4 linked regions of the Homo sapiens genome follow. The protein of the gene in region 1 interacts with the protein of each later gene in a pairwise test. Each region holds a gene or a part of one and is shown in the gene's direction. Other genes may lie near its edges.

What was found.
Region 2: the proteins of RETREG3 (region 1) and TPRG1 interact in binary tests that used the Homo sapiens proteins (3 or more experiments, as listed by UniProt).
Region 3: the proteins of RETREG3 (region 1) and SERP2 interact in binary tests that used the Homo sapiens proteins (3 or more experiments, as listed by UniProt).
Region 4: the proteins of RETREG3 (region 1) and TMEM222 interact in binary tests that used the Homo sapiens proteins (3 or more experiments, as listed by UniProt).

What each region holds. Positions count from the first base shown.
Region 1 is NC_000017.11:42,602,875-42,606,374, reverse strand, and holds part of RETREG3 (reticulophagy regulator 3), read left to right. Parts: intron 1-3,500. UniProt on the Homo sapiens protein: Endoplasmic reticulum (ER)-anchored autophagy regulator which exists in an inactive state under basal conditions but is activated following cellular stress.
Region 2 is NC_000003.12:189,318,471-189,321,970, forward strand, and holds part of TPRG1 (tumor protein p63-regulated gene 1 protein), read left to right. Parts: intron 1-2,155; coding exon 2,156-2,350; 3' UTR 2,351-3,500.
Region 3 is NC_000013.11:44,394,324-44,397,823, forward strand, and holds the end of SERP2 (stress-associated endoplasmic reticulum protein 2), read left to right. Parts: intron 1-2,948; coding exon 2,949-2,989; 3' UTR 2,990-3,391; downstream 3,392-3,500. UniProt on the Homo sapiens protein: Interacts with target proteins during their translocation into the lumen of the endoplasmic reticulum. Protects unfolded target proteins against degradation during ER stress. May facilitate glycosylation of target proteins after termination of ER stress.
Region 4 is NC_000001.11:27,328,663-27,332,162, forward strand, and holds part of TMEM222 (transmembrane protein 222), read left to right. Parts: intron 1-2,052; exon of another isoform or gene 2,053-2,057; coding exon 2,058-2,142; intron 2,143-2,322; exon of another isoform or gene 2,323-2,475; intron 2,476-2,578; exon of another isoform or gene 2,579-3,407; coding exon 3,408-3,439; intron 3,440-3,500.

The sequences.
Region 1 (3,500 bases):
CTGCGAGGAGGGGACCTTTCTTCTGCCGCTTGTCTGAGAGAGGTTTCTGAAGCAGAATGTGAGGTTGAGGTCTGCACATAAAGAGCTGCTGTGACTGGGACATATCTTTAGATGTTACAGCTAGCTTTAATTTGCTGGCCTCTACCAGTGTTTACTTAAGCTTATTAACATGCTATGTTTAGAGGCTCACTTAGAACCCCTTTTGTACTCTGGGTCTCTTAAAGCATTGCTGTGATTGGTCTTTATCTTTGGCATTTCCTAGTAGCTTGTCTGTTGTGTATCCAGAACACAGTTACTCTTGTTACAGTCCCATCACATTTTAAGAAGGTGCAGGAGAGAGACAACAAAATGAGGATGTGACTTTTTTTTTTTTTTTTTTTTTTTGAGATGGAGTCTCGCTCTGTCACCCAGGCTGGGGTGCAATGGCGTGATCTTGGCTCACTGCAACTTCCACCTCCTAAGTTCAAGCGATTCTCCCACCCCAGCCTCCCGAGTAGCTGGGATTACAGGCACCCACCATCACGTCTGGCTAATTTTTGTATTTTTGTAGGGCAGAGTTTCACCATGTTGGCCAGGCTGGTCTTGAACTCCTGACCTCAGGTGATCCACCCACCTCGGTCTCCCAAAGTGCTGGGATTACAGGTGTGAGCCACTGTCCCTGGCCGACAATGTGACTCTTGAGACTAAAAGAACAGTTGGGTATGCCATTTCTGGAGAGGACTCCTACATGTGAAAGGCACAGATACTGTTAAGTCCCCAGAAACTTGGATAGTCTGGCATTGGAGTTCACAGAATTGTTTGGGGAAATGAGCTTCCTTGGTAGGTAATTAGAGATTTAAAATGAAATTTGGGCTTCACATTCTAGTAGTGTCATATTGAGTATGAGTGTTGACATTTCGCTTAGAAATGTGGAAGAGTGACTGACTGTTCAGTTAACAAACATTTTAAATGTTTAAGAAAGGGAGGAGGATCATTAGCTCAAGTCAGAAAAATCAAATCTGAAATATTTAGTTTCTCTTTTATTGTATTGAATAATGGGACAAAAATGACATATCATTAACTGAGATTTTTATGCATTTTGAGGTATTAGGAGATAGGAGTACAAAAAAAAACCCATCAGAATTCAGGTAGGTAGCTCTTAATTTTCAGTGTTTTGTATCCTCAGTCATATTTTGCCGTAACTGTGAATATGCCCTCTTACATCTTAAAAAAAAAAAAAAAAGATGGAGATAGATGTAGATACCTTGTCACCATAGTATTCCAAGGTTTTCATACTTTTTTTTTTTTCAGGTACCAGAGAATTTATGGTGGCCATATCAGAGGTCTTCCAGCCTAGATTACTTCTGGTCACTGATCTGTTATTGTCTCTAGCATAATAATAGAAATGTCAGGCCGTTCCTTCCAATAGCTTGTGTTTTCATTAGTCTCAACCTCATCTGTGAATGAGTGATTTGGGGGAAGAATGTGAGAGTCAACAAGCATGTATCCTGACAGGATCAGAAAAGAACAGGTTTGGGTAACTTTTTGGTTTGACTTGTACTCTGAGATCAGAGGAGGGTAAATGAACACTGGAAATGTGTGAACTCCAAGCTCCCTCTCCCACCTAACATGAAGAGATAGTTCAAGGAGGCCTACATAACTGCTGAGCTCTTTCAGTTTTTTTTTTTTTTTTTTTTTTTTGCTGGGGAATCGGGGGTTGTTGGGCTGGACAGGGTCTCCCTCTGTTGCCCAGGCTGGAGTGCAGTGGCACAATCATAGCTCACTGCAGCCTCTACCTCCTGGGCTCCAGCAGTCCTCTTGCCTCAGTCTTCCAAGTAGCTGGGACTAGAGGCACATGCCACTGGGCCCAGCCTATTTGCAAAACTTTTGTAGAGACAGAATCTCAATATGTTGCCCAGGCTGGTCTCAAACTCCTCATCTCTAACAGCCCTCCCGGCTTGGTCTCCTAAAGTGCTAGGATTACAGGCATGACCCACTGCACCTTGACTGCTTTGTGGTTTTTAACAATCTGTGAATCTACATAGTCTATGAATTAGGAATATTGTTTTGGAGCAGTCCACAAGCTGAGTCCCAAGTAGAGATCTCTGTTGGGATCTGCTTTTTGCAGTCACTAGTCTCAGTGAACCATACTGTATTTCTAGGAGGTTATTATAGAATTTGTTATTTCACAAATGAAATGTAAAAATTTTATTTTTGTCCGCCCCCCCAAAAAAATAAATAAATAAAAATGACCCAAAAAAGTGATTAAGGATATACAGCAATTCTGAGTTAGAAGGTTAGGATTTGAGTAAAAAATAATAGAAACAAGAAATGGAAGATGGGGAGCCCATTTAAGTAGAGATATTTGTTCTGTTAAAAAAAATCTACACATCTGATTTCTTTTCTTTTTTTTTTTTTTGAGACGGAGTCTCGCTCTGTCGCCCAGGCTGGAGTACAGTGGCGCGATCTCGGCTCACTGCAAGCTCCACCTCCCGGGTTCACGCCAGTCTCCTGCCTCAGCCTCCCGAGTAGCTGGGACTACAGGCGCCCGCCACCATGCCCACCTAATTTTTTGTATTTTTAGTAGAGACCGGGTTTCACCGTTTTAGCCAGGATGGTCTCAATCTCCTGACCTCGTGATCCGCCCGCCTCGGTCTCCCAAAGTGCTGGGATTACAGGCGTGAGCCACCGCGCCCGGCTACACATCAGATTTCTAATGAAATCTGTTGAGTGAATGTTCCTGATGATAGTCTTTGCAGGGTTCTTGTCTTTGTGAGCCGAGAAGACTCCCAAGGATGCCTTGGTTTATTTACTTCCCCTCTCTTTACCTTTAGTTTTTATCTGCCCTAATTGTATGGTTGAGTGCTTTCTCTCCACTGTTAGCAGCTAGCTGATTTCATTTCTGGTTTTTTTGCAAGCAACAACTGTCACTGCATGATATAGGTTGGGTTAATTTTTCCTTTGAATTTACCGGTGACTTGGGCTCATTAACCAGGCGGTCACAAGTGCTGTACAGTAACAGGCTTTCTGTCCCTGTAGAATGGGATGCTTTGTTTTGAAGTGCCCTTGAGACAATCTTAATCTGTAATAACAAAGGAACCTAGAAATCATGTCTTTGAAAATAGACATGTGGTCATTATTTATGATTATAGCAAACTTTAATTTACTGGTACTAATAGTGAGGCTCCATGGTATAGTTAATCACAAAAGTTTATGTTTGGTTCTGGAATTTCTCACGATGTTTCTGGACACCAATTGCTATTCCAGGGATATTTTATTTAGACTGATCATTTAATTGGATTTTAGTCCCTGACAGAGTGGAGGGACAGTTCACAAAAGGGGAAAAAAAAATCAATGGATATATAAAATTTCACTCTCACAAATAAGAAAAGAATTCAAATATATGTAAATGGAAATTATTTACTAATTTCTATCTTAAGTTTTTTTTTTGGCGGGGGACAGGATCTCACTGTCGCCCAGGCTCGAGAGCAGTGGTGTGATCATGGCTTATTGCAACCTCA
Region 2 (3,500 bases), on another chromosome or scaffold:
ATAGATCTTTTTGGATTAAATCATTGATTGCCAGAGCTGAAGTTTCCTAGGCAAGTGATTTTCATTTAAAAAGAAGTAAAATCTTACTTGGAACTCAAATATATAAAACTGATCATAAAAATAGAGCAGCTCTGATGTGATTGAAGAGACTAAAATAAGTTACCTGCTTGGCTTTTGGCTTTTTGTTGACATCCTCTCCTCGAAGCCTCAGGTACCTGCTGTCCCAACATTATTCACATAGCACTTCCTTTCTTTTCCAGAGAATTTAGATTTGGATGATAAATTATATGTACCCACCCAATCTGTGAAGAGATCTAGTGTTCTAAAGAACATGGTTTAAAAATTAATGAATGTAATATTTTCTCCCTTTTGCAAATGAGGAACATGAATTCTTCCCTAAATATCAGAATTTTAAAACTAAATTTTCTAAAAATTAGAATTTTATAATTCCTGCTCATAACAGCAATGTTATAAAGAGAGGACTTCAGGAGTTAAGTCAGGAGACCTGAGTCCAAGCCCTTGCTCAATCATTTACTAGTTATTTGGTATTGGGTAGATCCCTGTAACATTTAGATCCTCAGTTTACCTACCAGATCCCCTCTACATTGCCCACAATGCCTAGTATCTTATCCAACAAGAGTTTCCTGAATTTAATTCCTACTCTCTGTCCCATATCCTATCATGTTTAGGCTATTAACTTCACTTTATGAATATCATTCTTGACTTCTGGGTCTGTGATTATTATTATGAAAAATTTATAGACATGGACTTTTTATCTGTATATTTCTTCATGGTCCCAGATTCTATATCCAGTTGCCTATTGAAAATCTCTAAGAGGATTTCTGGTGAGGTAACTCAAACCACGTGTCTGCAACAAAATCCTCCATCCCTGTATCTTACCATTTCCAATCTGTACCTCTCCTAGGCTTTCTCAACTCAATAATAATATCGCTATCTACCCAGTTGCTCAGGCCAAAAACCTGGGTGTCATTTTTTTCCTTCTCATTTCTTCATCCCTAAATTCAATCACACCAACACATTCTTTGGCTTGAACCCCCTGCCCCCCAAATCCCTAATTTAACCAGTTCCGATGGTCTCTACTGCTACACTGTCCAAGCCACCGTCGTATCTTGCCTGGACTCCTGAAGTGAACTCCAAACTCATCTTGTCTTCCTGCTTCCATTCTTAGCCCTAAGAGCATTCTATTTTTGACTCCACACAGTAGCTAGGATTATTATTATTTGTAAAATAACAGCATACAACATTGAACTCCTTCCTAAAATCACATCAATCCAAAGCCCTTAATATGGCCCTGAAGACTCTTCATGCCTAGTGCTTCAACCTCTTTCCTTTGATCACTAGACTTCTGTCTAAAAGGCGTTTTCTGTGTCCCTTGAAGAAGCTAAATTCATGCCTCCCTTACAGCTTTTGCAGGTGCTGTGTTTTCTGCTTGGAATTTCTTCTTCACGTAACTAGCTCTTTTTCATTGTATGGGTCTCAGTTGAAGTTTTACCTCCTCAGAAAGACTTGCCCTGAATACAGTATGTGAAGTAACTCTAACTTTCATTACTTTTTATCCCTTTACCACATTCTATTTTCCTTCTAGAATTTATCACCTTCAAAATTTTTATGAATATTTTTTGTCTGCAATCACGAGAATGTGAGCTCCATGACAGCGGGGTTTTTTTGCCTGTCTGTTCAACTTAAAATGTCCCTGGAACTTGTTGTAGGCGCTTCATCAATATTTCTTAAGTAATTTCAGATGCCCTTTCATCTATTAGTGACAAAGAGAGTCAGTTTACAGTACTAATACCGATGCAAATTATTTGTATACTAACAAAATATTAAAGCAGCTAAAACTAAAATGGTACTTGGTAGACTTATGTGGATGATAAACAAACTGAAAAAATTACATATTATTTCTGACATTAAGAAGCAAAATTGGGCCTGAGGAAAGTTAGTCTTAATGGACTTAAGCACAGTTATTAACTGAATTAACTTAATAGAGATAAATTTAACCATTTATGTTTAAGAAGTAAGAATAACTGCAGCCCCAGGAGAGTAGTCAACTTCTGTGAAGACTGGCTGGGGAGATGAGTATCTCTCAACTTAATCTACAGTAACTAACTTTGTGCCTTCTTTTTTTCTTCTTCAGTTGTCTGGGTTCATGTCTAAGCTTGTTCCAGCTATCCAGAATGCCCACAAGAATTCAACTGGATCTGGAAGAGGAAAGAAACTGATGGTGTTAACTGAACCCATTTTGATTGAGACCTACACAGGGCTGATGTCATTCATTGGAAACCGCAACAAACTTGGCTATTCCCTTGCCCGTGGGAGTATTGGTTTTTGAGAGTCTTTTTGGTACCATAAGCATATCATCCACAGATATGTCACTTTGAAAATTCCAGTTTGACCCACGCTATTTTTGGACTGAAACAATTAATTATTTTTAAATGACGCTTTATGATTTAGAAATTTAGTATTTCCGAAAATTTAAAAGCTTGATTGGACTGATAGATACACACTTTAGACCTCATACAAGAATAATCAAATTTTCTTAAAACTAGAAAATAAATGCTGCTGAGCCTATCAAATACTGTTATCAAATGAGTGCCTGATCATCAACTCAGGAAAGAAGACTCTAAGTCCTGTTGCTTCAGCTCTCTAAATGTAGGCTTTTTTTTTTTTTTTTTTTTAGGTCTTGGTCTTCAGCCCTCTTATCCTGATTTATTCTCTCATTGGGGTCTCACTGTCTCTAGTATTTTAGCTACCACTTGATAAGGATGACTTCCAAATTTATATTCCCATTCCCAATATTTATTCCAAGACTCAGTTTTGCATTTCTGACTGCTAATCATCTATATATCAGTGTCCCAGTGGCCTCTTAATTGAGCATTATCAAAATCCTGTGGTATTTATATGGTCCCAGTTATCCATCCCTGAAGTCTGTCAATTTTGATTTCTCTAAATTCCTTGCCATGACATCCTATATATGATCACATCTCTATACGGCTTAGCATTGTATTCCGATGCCCAGATGTCAAACTTGAAGCTCATTCTCTTATCAAAATTGTTCATGTATTCCTCCTTTCCATTCTTATAGCTGTATTATTAGATCAGGTTTTTAATTCTGCTCAACCAATTATTACCACAGCCTGTTAAATGGAATCCCTACTCCAAGGCTGACTGTTTCAATCTATCCTACACTTGGTTTCTAGCTCATTTACTTATACCATCTTTTGTTCAAATATATATTTTTTAATAACAGACCTTTTTCTTCTAAAGAAATCTTTTGTAGAAGCAGCATATACGAAGCAGATAAAAGTAGGTTCAATGCGGTTGGAGTGAAGATGAGAATGCCACAGGCATCTTTCTTTCTAGGCCTCAGAGGTGCTGCATATGGAATGTCCATGGATCGCAGAGGGTTTTGAAGACCATGTTTTCAAAAACACTGTCTTAACACTCTATTGTCATTGCTCTTTTCCCTCTTATTTCCTCTT
Region 3 (3,500 bases), on another chromosome or scaffold:
CATGTTGGCCAGGATGGTCTCAATCTCTTGACCTCATGATCTGCCCACCTTGGCCTCCCAAAGTGCTGAGATTACAGGCATGAGCCACCGCACCTGGACTGTCTTAGATTCTTTAAAGAGATTTGTAACAGTTCCTTCAAAAAGAATTGCATGGTTTCTTATTATTACCTCGAACTTTTGAAGTTATGAATTAACTTAATATGGGGGCTACATGGACTAAGACACAGATGGTTTCCTATTTGTTGACTTACATCCTGCTGATAAGTTTTTGTCTAAGGGCAAGAGTAAGCGAGAAGTAATATTTTTGAGCATCTACTTATGTCATCGTATTTATTCCTTGCCATCCTTTGAGGTACCTATTATCCACAGTTTTATAGGTAGAGAAAGCAGGGCTCAGAACTGTGTAGTAATTTCCCAAAGTTCACAGCTTTGTAGGCTGGCAGATAGTGCTAAGCACTGGTCTGCATGCTGGGACAGGGAGAAGCAGCAGTTGTTGTAGTCATAGTAACAGTGATGATAGCAGTAGCTACCAGGCAGTGAGTCCTCCATGTGTGAGGACCCTTCCTATATGTCATATGGTTTAATCCCTGTGACAGCCCTGCAAAGGCCATGATCCTCATTTTACAGAACAGGAAGCAGCCTCTAAGAGATTAATTATTTGTCCAGTCACACAGCTTTTCAGCAAAGAGCTGATATTCAACCCAATTCCATCTGATCCTAACTTTCTGCTCTAAAGTCAACTTGTTCGTCAGGATTAGCGATAGTTCCCTGATCACAAGAACAAAGTCTGAGGCATGGTAGAAGTAATCTTTTTTTTCCTAATGTTGAATATACAGCTGCCTCCTGACATTCCTATTGAGCCAGAATACAGAATGTTTATTTAATTTTTACTCCTTGTGAGCCTTGGTGGGGAGGAAAGAAACATCAGATATTTCTGCAAGCTTATAAATTGTTGTAGGGTACTTTCTCTTCCAACTGCTCCTGTTAAGACCCACCCAAGGCCGGGCACGGTGGCTCACGCCTATAATCCCAGGACTTTGGGAGGCTGAGGTGGGTGGATCACGAGGTCAGGAGATCGAGACCATTCTGGCTAACACGGTGAAATCCCGTCTCTACTAAAAATACAAAAAATTAGCCGGGCATGGTAGCGGGCACCTGTAGTCCCAGCTACTCGGGAGCCTGAGGCAGGAGAATGGCGTGAACCGGGGAGGCGGAGCTTGCAGTGAGCCGAGATCGCACCACTGCACTCCAACCTGGGCGACAGAGGAAGACTCCGTCTCAAAAAAAAAAAAAAAAAAAAAGACCCACCCAAGAACCCAAACTTAGCTAAGAAAATATCTGAGCACATCCAGAATTAAATATCACAAGTTGTTGGACCAACACCTTCACCATATCTACAGATGAGTCCCTGACACTCACATGGAGCTGATTGACTCTGATTTGACTCGTAATTCTAACAGTTTCTGTTTTCAGCTTAGTCTACGGCAACAAAATAATAGTACAGGACCCACTGCAGATTGGTGTAGTAATACAAGAGATGTGACCAGAGATGAGAAGAAAGAGACCCAAAAAATGATCAGAAGCAGAAATGGGAGCCCAGAAGTGCAGCTGACCAGAAGCATTTCAGTGTCAGATCACACGCAGCCTCCTCTGTAATGAGATCACAGCACGTCTCATCAGTTACTGGTTTTCATTATGGTGACACTGAACACTCATGAAAAGTTAGCATTGAAATATGTTGGTATCTCCAATTTAGAAAGGTAGTGATGATGGGTACAGTGTTTTTACGGGGAAAAAAAGCCAAAAAATGCATTCATGTTTGTCTACTCTTAAAACCCAGCTGTCCAAGAACGATTCCCCAAGGCCCTGTCCATCATTTCTCTTTCTATCCTTGAAGCGCAGTGTCTGACACATAGGATGTGCTCATTGATGCCAGATGATGAAACTTGAATGGCTGGTTTCCTAGGGTTCTGGATAACTCTGTTTTACCGTGGATCCTGGATGTATTCCAGGATGACTTTAAGAAGGCGAGAAGGGGTAAGACCCCTGAGAGCTCAGTGTTTATTCTGTTTTTACACATGGTTAGATGAGATGATACCCACCCTCCTTCAAAAAAAAAAAAAAAAAGCCATTCAATACATGGTAGTTACTCTTATCATTACCATCATCTTTGTCAACACTGACCACGGTTGCTCACTGGGGAAGATGTGAAAAAGAAGTTGGGATCTTCCGCTCCTGGGACACATTTGAAACCCAATAGCTGGAAGCAGGCTGAAGCTATGTAACCAGCTCTCATCCACATGGGCAAGGGTCCCAGGAGTTCTCTGTGGGCTTACAAGCTACCCACCCCCTTGACAACTCCAGTTATTAAAGGTTGAGCCCTGAATAAATAAGTGCCGCTCTCCATAAGAGACAGCCGCCTTTCAGAGAGTTCCAAGCAGCTGGAAGATACTCACGCATGGAGGGTTCTAGGCAGACAGAGGCCGGGCCCCGTGGGCTGCTCCGAGCACCTGGTCGGCCTTCCCAGCACAGGGCTCATTGTTTTACAGGTCACAGCCATTTTGAAAAGGCAGACTCACTGACCTGTTTAATGAGTGCAGTTTCTGCACGAAAGCCCATATCCCTCTCCCAGGCAGCCCCAGAACTTTGCTGGGGAAGGGGGCCAAATCTCTTCTCAGTGCCTGAGGGATTTCTGGCCTTAACTGCTGGTGGAATTAGCAGGAGTTATCTATAAATCCCTGAGGCATCCATCAGCCGACTGAGCGAGGCTGCCTTTTTAAAGAAGTTCACTGACCTCTTGTTAACTTAACTCCTTGTTAGGAAATATCTAATCAGCTGTGAGCTAACACGTCAGGGCCCAGGGGTCTGCAGAAGCCGGGCTCACTGTGGGCTGGGTTTCCAGCTGTGTGCAGTCTGGTGTCTGAGCTGTGGTGTTTTCCTCTTTTCAGCTATCTTTCAGATCATTCAGAGCATAAGGATGGGCATGTGAGAAAGCCAGGGATTTGACACCACCTCCCTCCCACTGGAGGCGGGAGGACAACGGAAGCGGTCAGCCAGTTTCTGCGGGAAACAAGCAGGCCACACGGAATAGAAAAAAACGCTCCCCCACTTGTTCCCTGATCACTTCATCGTGGATGTCAGACCAAATTGCCTTCTCACAGGACATCTTGGTGCATCCGCGTTCTCAAGCGGAAAGGACATTTTGCTTTTCTGTTGGCAGGATTAGTAGCCACGCGGGTCGTCCGCAGCAGTGCTGTTTTTTTGGTTTTTCCCTTGGTTTCACTAATGCGTGCATGTGGCCCTCTGAACGATCACTGGTTTACTTTCTATGGATACAATCTCTCCTCCATTGAGAATTGATTTTACAAATAAATGTCTTCGTTCAACCTTATACCATGTGTGGGTTACAGTGAGAAAACTAAAGTGAAGAAAACAGCAGAATAGCTCAAGGAAAGTTGGGAGGTGGGGAGATTTGGTTATGCAGTTGGAGGAGGCGCAGG
Region 4 (3,500 bases), on another chromosome or scaffold:
TCTCCCCCTTTCGTTCTTCCAGGCACATGTACCACTTTCTTGCTCTGCAGTGTTGTTTTCTGCCTGTTGATGTTGTGTCCTTTCACAGGTCAAGGTTAAAAGTCACCTCCTCTGTGAAGTCTTTACTGGCTCCACCCCAGCCCCCTGTAACTGCTTTTTTAAACTGCGTCTCTGGAGGCTTGGCCTGCACCCCTAGCCAGGTGCTTTATGCTCGTGCCCAGGCAGCATTGAGGCCAGGACTCGGCCACTGGCCCTGTGAGTTCTCCTTAAACTGGATCAGTCTCTCCAGCACCCAGGTCCTGTAGGGCCATGGTTCTCAGAACACAGACAGGTCTGGGGTTCCTATGTGTGACATATTGGGGTGCATCTGAGATTTATTGTTGTTTTTTAATGCCCATGGTTTATAAAAAAGGAACTTTTATTTCCTGGCATACACCATGCTTCTGTTCCAATTTCTACCCTTGCACATTCTGTTTCTTTGTTATTTCCTCAGGGAAGCCTTTCCTGAACTCCCCCACCCATACTGGTGTCATGACCGCCCACCTTTTTTTTTTTTTTTAACTTTCTTATTGAGGTATAACTTATGTACCAAACGGTGTGCGAATCTCAAGTATACAGCAGGAAGAATTTTTGCATATCACACACTCATGTAACCGCCACCCAGACGGGGGCTAGAAAGCAATGCTAAGACCCAGAGGACCCCCTTGTGCCCTCCCAGTCAGTTCTACCACAGATTCCACCCCGCTGTGGACCTCTAGCCATAGATCAGTCTTGCCTTTTCTTGGACTTCACGTAAACAGAGTGCTATGTTACGTACTCTGTGTAAGATTTCCTTCATTCACCCTTATGTCTGTGAAAGCCTGTGTTGTGTGTAGCAGAAGTGACACTGTTTTTCATTGTTATGGACTATTTCAATGTATAACTATACCACACTTATTCATCGTACTGTTGTTGAACATTTGGATTCTTTCTAGTTGTTTTTATCAATTTTATTGAATTATAGTTTACATATAATAAAATGTACACATTTTAAGAGTACAGTTCAATGAGTTTTGGCAAATGTTATTTCCCAGGGGTGAGGGCAAAGAAGGTTCCAAAAGTGAAACTGCTGAGGCATTTAGTATAGTGCCAAACTGTTTTCCAGAATGGTAGAAACAGGCCGGGTACGGTGGCTCACGCCTGTAATTCCAGCACTTTGGGAGGCCGAGGCAGGCAGATGACTTGAGGTCAGGAGTTCGAGACCAGCCTGGCCAACGTGATGAAACCTCATGTCTACTAAAAATACAAAAATTAGCCAGGCATGGTGGTGCACTCCTGTAGTCCCAGCTACTCGGGAGGCTGAGGCAGGAGAATTGCTTAAACCCAGGAGGCGGAGGTTGCAGTGAGCTGAGATTGTGCCACCGCACTTCAGCCAGGGCAAGAGAGCGAGACTCCATCTCAAAAACAAAATGGTAGGCCGGGTGCAGTGGCTTATGCCTGTAATCCCAGCACTTTGGGAGGCCAAGGCACGTGGATCACGAGGTCAAGAGATCGAGACCATCCTGGCCAACATGGTGAAACCCCATCTCTACTAAAAATACAAAAATTACCCAGGCGTGGTGGTGCACACCTGTAGTCCCAGCTACTCAGGAGGCTGAGGCAGGAGAATTGCTTGAACTCGGGAGGCGGAGGTTGCAGTGAGCCAATATTGTGCCACTGCACTCCAGCCTGGGCGACAGAGCGAGACTCCATTTGAAAAAAAAAAAAAGGTAGAAACAGTTTATCCCTCCCACCAGCAGTGAATGAGAGCTCTGGTTGTCCCTTGCCCTCACCTGCATTGGTGTTGCTGTCGTTTGAGTTACAGCCATCCTGGCGGGATGCTGAGGTATCCCATTGTGCTGTCGGTTTGCAGTTACCCTTGTCTGTGCTTCCCCAGCCTTCTGGACCACCCTAATGGCCACCTGTCAATGAAACGTAATATTCACATGCTTCTGTACTGTATGAAGGGTCCCCAGCGTCCGTCTAACTGGCTGAAAGATCCCCTAAGCTCTGTCCCTTCCCCGTCCTTTTCCTCACAGGTGGTTTTTCCCCATCATCGGCCACATGGGCATCTGCACATCCACAGGAGTCATTCGGGACTTCGCGGGCCCCTACTTTGTCTCAGTGAGTCCCCATTCTGCCCACCCGGGGGGTTCCAAGGTTTAAGTGGAAGGCTGTCCTGTCTTGCCTGCAGGCAGGCTTCGTCTCCCCAGACCCAGGAGAACGTAGATAACCCGCAGTCCTGGCCCTGGCCCTCTGCCCCTCACCAGTGTTTGACCCCTTTCCCCCTTCTCTTGCCTCCAGGACAGGCCGGGAGGGCAGTGTGGCCAGAAGGATTCTTAAGTAACTGACCCAGCCCTTTGCCCCCACCCCTGGGGTACCGAGACATGGGTAGGGATTAGAGGCAAGAGTGGAGAGTCAGACCATCCAGGAACCACATCTCTGGACCTTCAGAAGGTGGGAGTCAAGGTGGGGGGACACGGGAGGCTGATTCGGTTCCCTGGGTGTGGCCATGGAGAAGAGGGGGTGGGGCTTTAGAATGAAGCAGCTGTGTTCTCAGGTCTGTTCCCTGGGGCTGTGACCAAGACTGGTCCAGTGGGCTAGCAGCAGAGGAGCATGCATCATCCTGTCTCCAGGTGTCAGAGGCTGGACTGAAGGGGTGTGGTGGCACCAACCTGTTTATATTAATAGTTGTCATGATCATCTTAACACGACAAAGGTCTGTCACTTTGTACTTAAAAATACTTTCACATCCATTACTTTATCATATATTTTTATGGTGATTAATCATTGACCAGGTCTGTCAGCAGGGTCTCCCTGATCTGAACCCAGAGTCTGTCTCTGTGTAAGTCCTGTACCCCAGGAATAATGTGATGAGTCTAGGACTTCACTGCAGTGTCTCCCTCACAGGAAGTCCCTCTGGGCCCAGCGCCCCCGCCCTGCTATGAATGCAGTCAGACTGCTGGGCGAGGAGATGGTCTCCATGTGGGCCACCACTGTTGAGTCAGGAGGCCAGACCATGATGGAAACCTCCTGCTGGTCCTCAGAGATCAGAGAAGACTGACCAGAGAACTTGGAGAAAATGAGGCCCAGAGAGGGCAAGAGAATTCCTGGGTGCCACACCAAGGGACAGTGGCAGCTGGAGCCCCAGATCTTTGGTCTCTGATGCAGTGCTCTGTGCACTTGTGCCACACTGCCTTCTTCCTGCAGAACAGCTGCTAGCTCTTTAGATGCCATGCCAGCCCCAGGGCAGGGCCCAGGCCCCACTTCTGGCCCCCCCACCCCTGACATACCCTCTTCTAAGTCACTGCACTTCTGCCACCTACCCAGGTTTGTCATCTGGCCCAAATGTAAGTTCCTCACTGACCTCTGCTTTTGTCCCTCAACAGGAGGACAACATGGCCTTTGGAAAGCCTGCCAAGTAAGTGATGAACACCCATGTGACTGGCTCTAGAGGCAGGTCGCTCCTGCCGGGGCGGGCC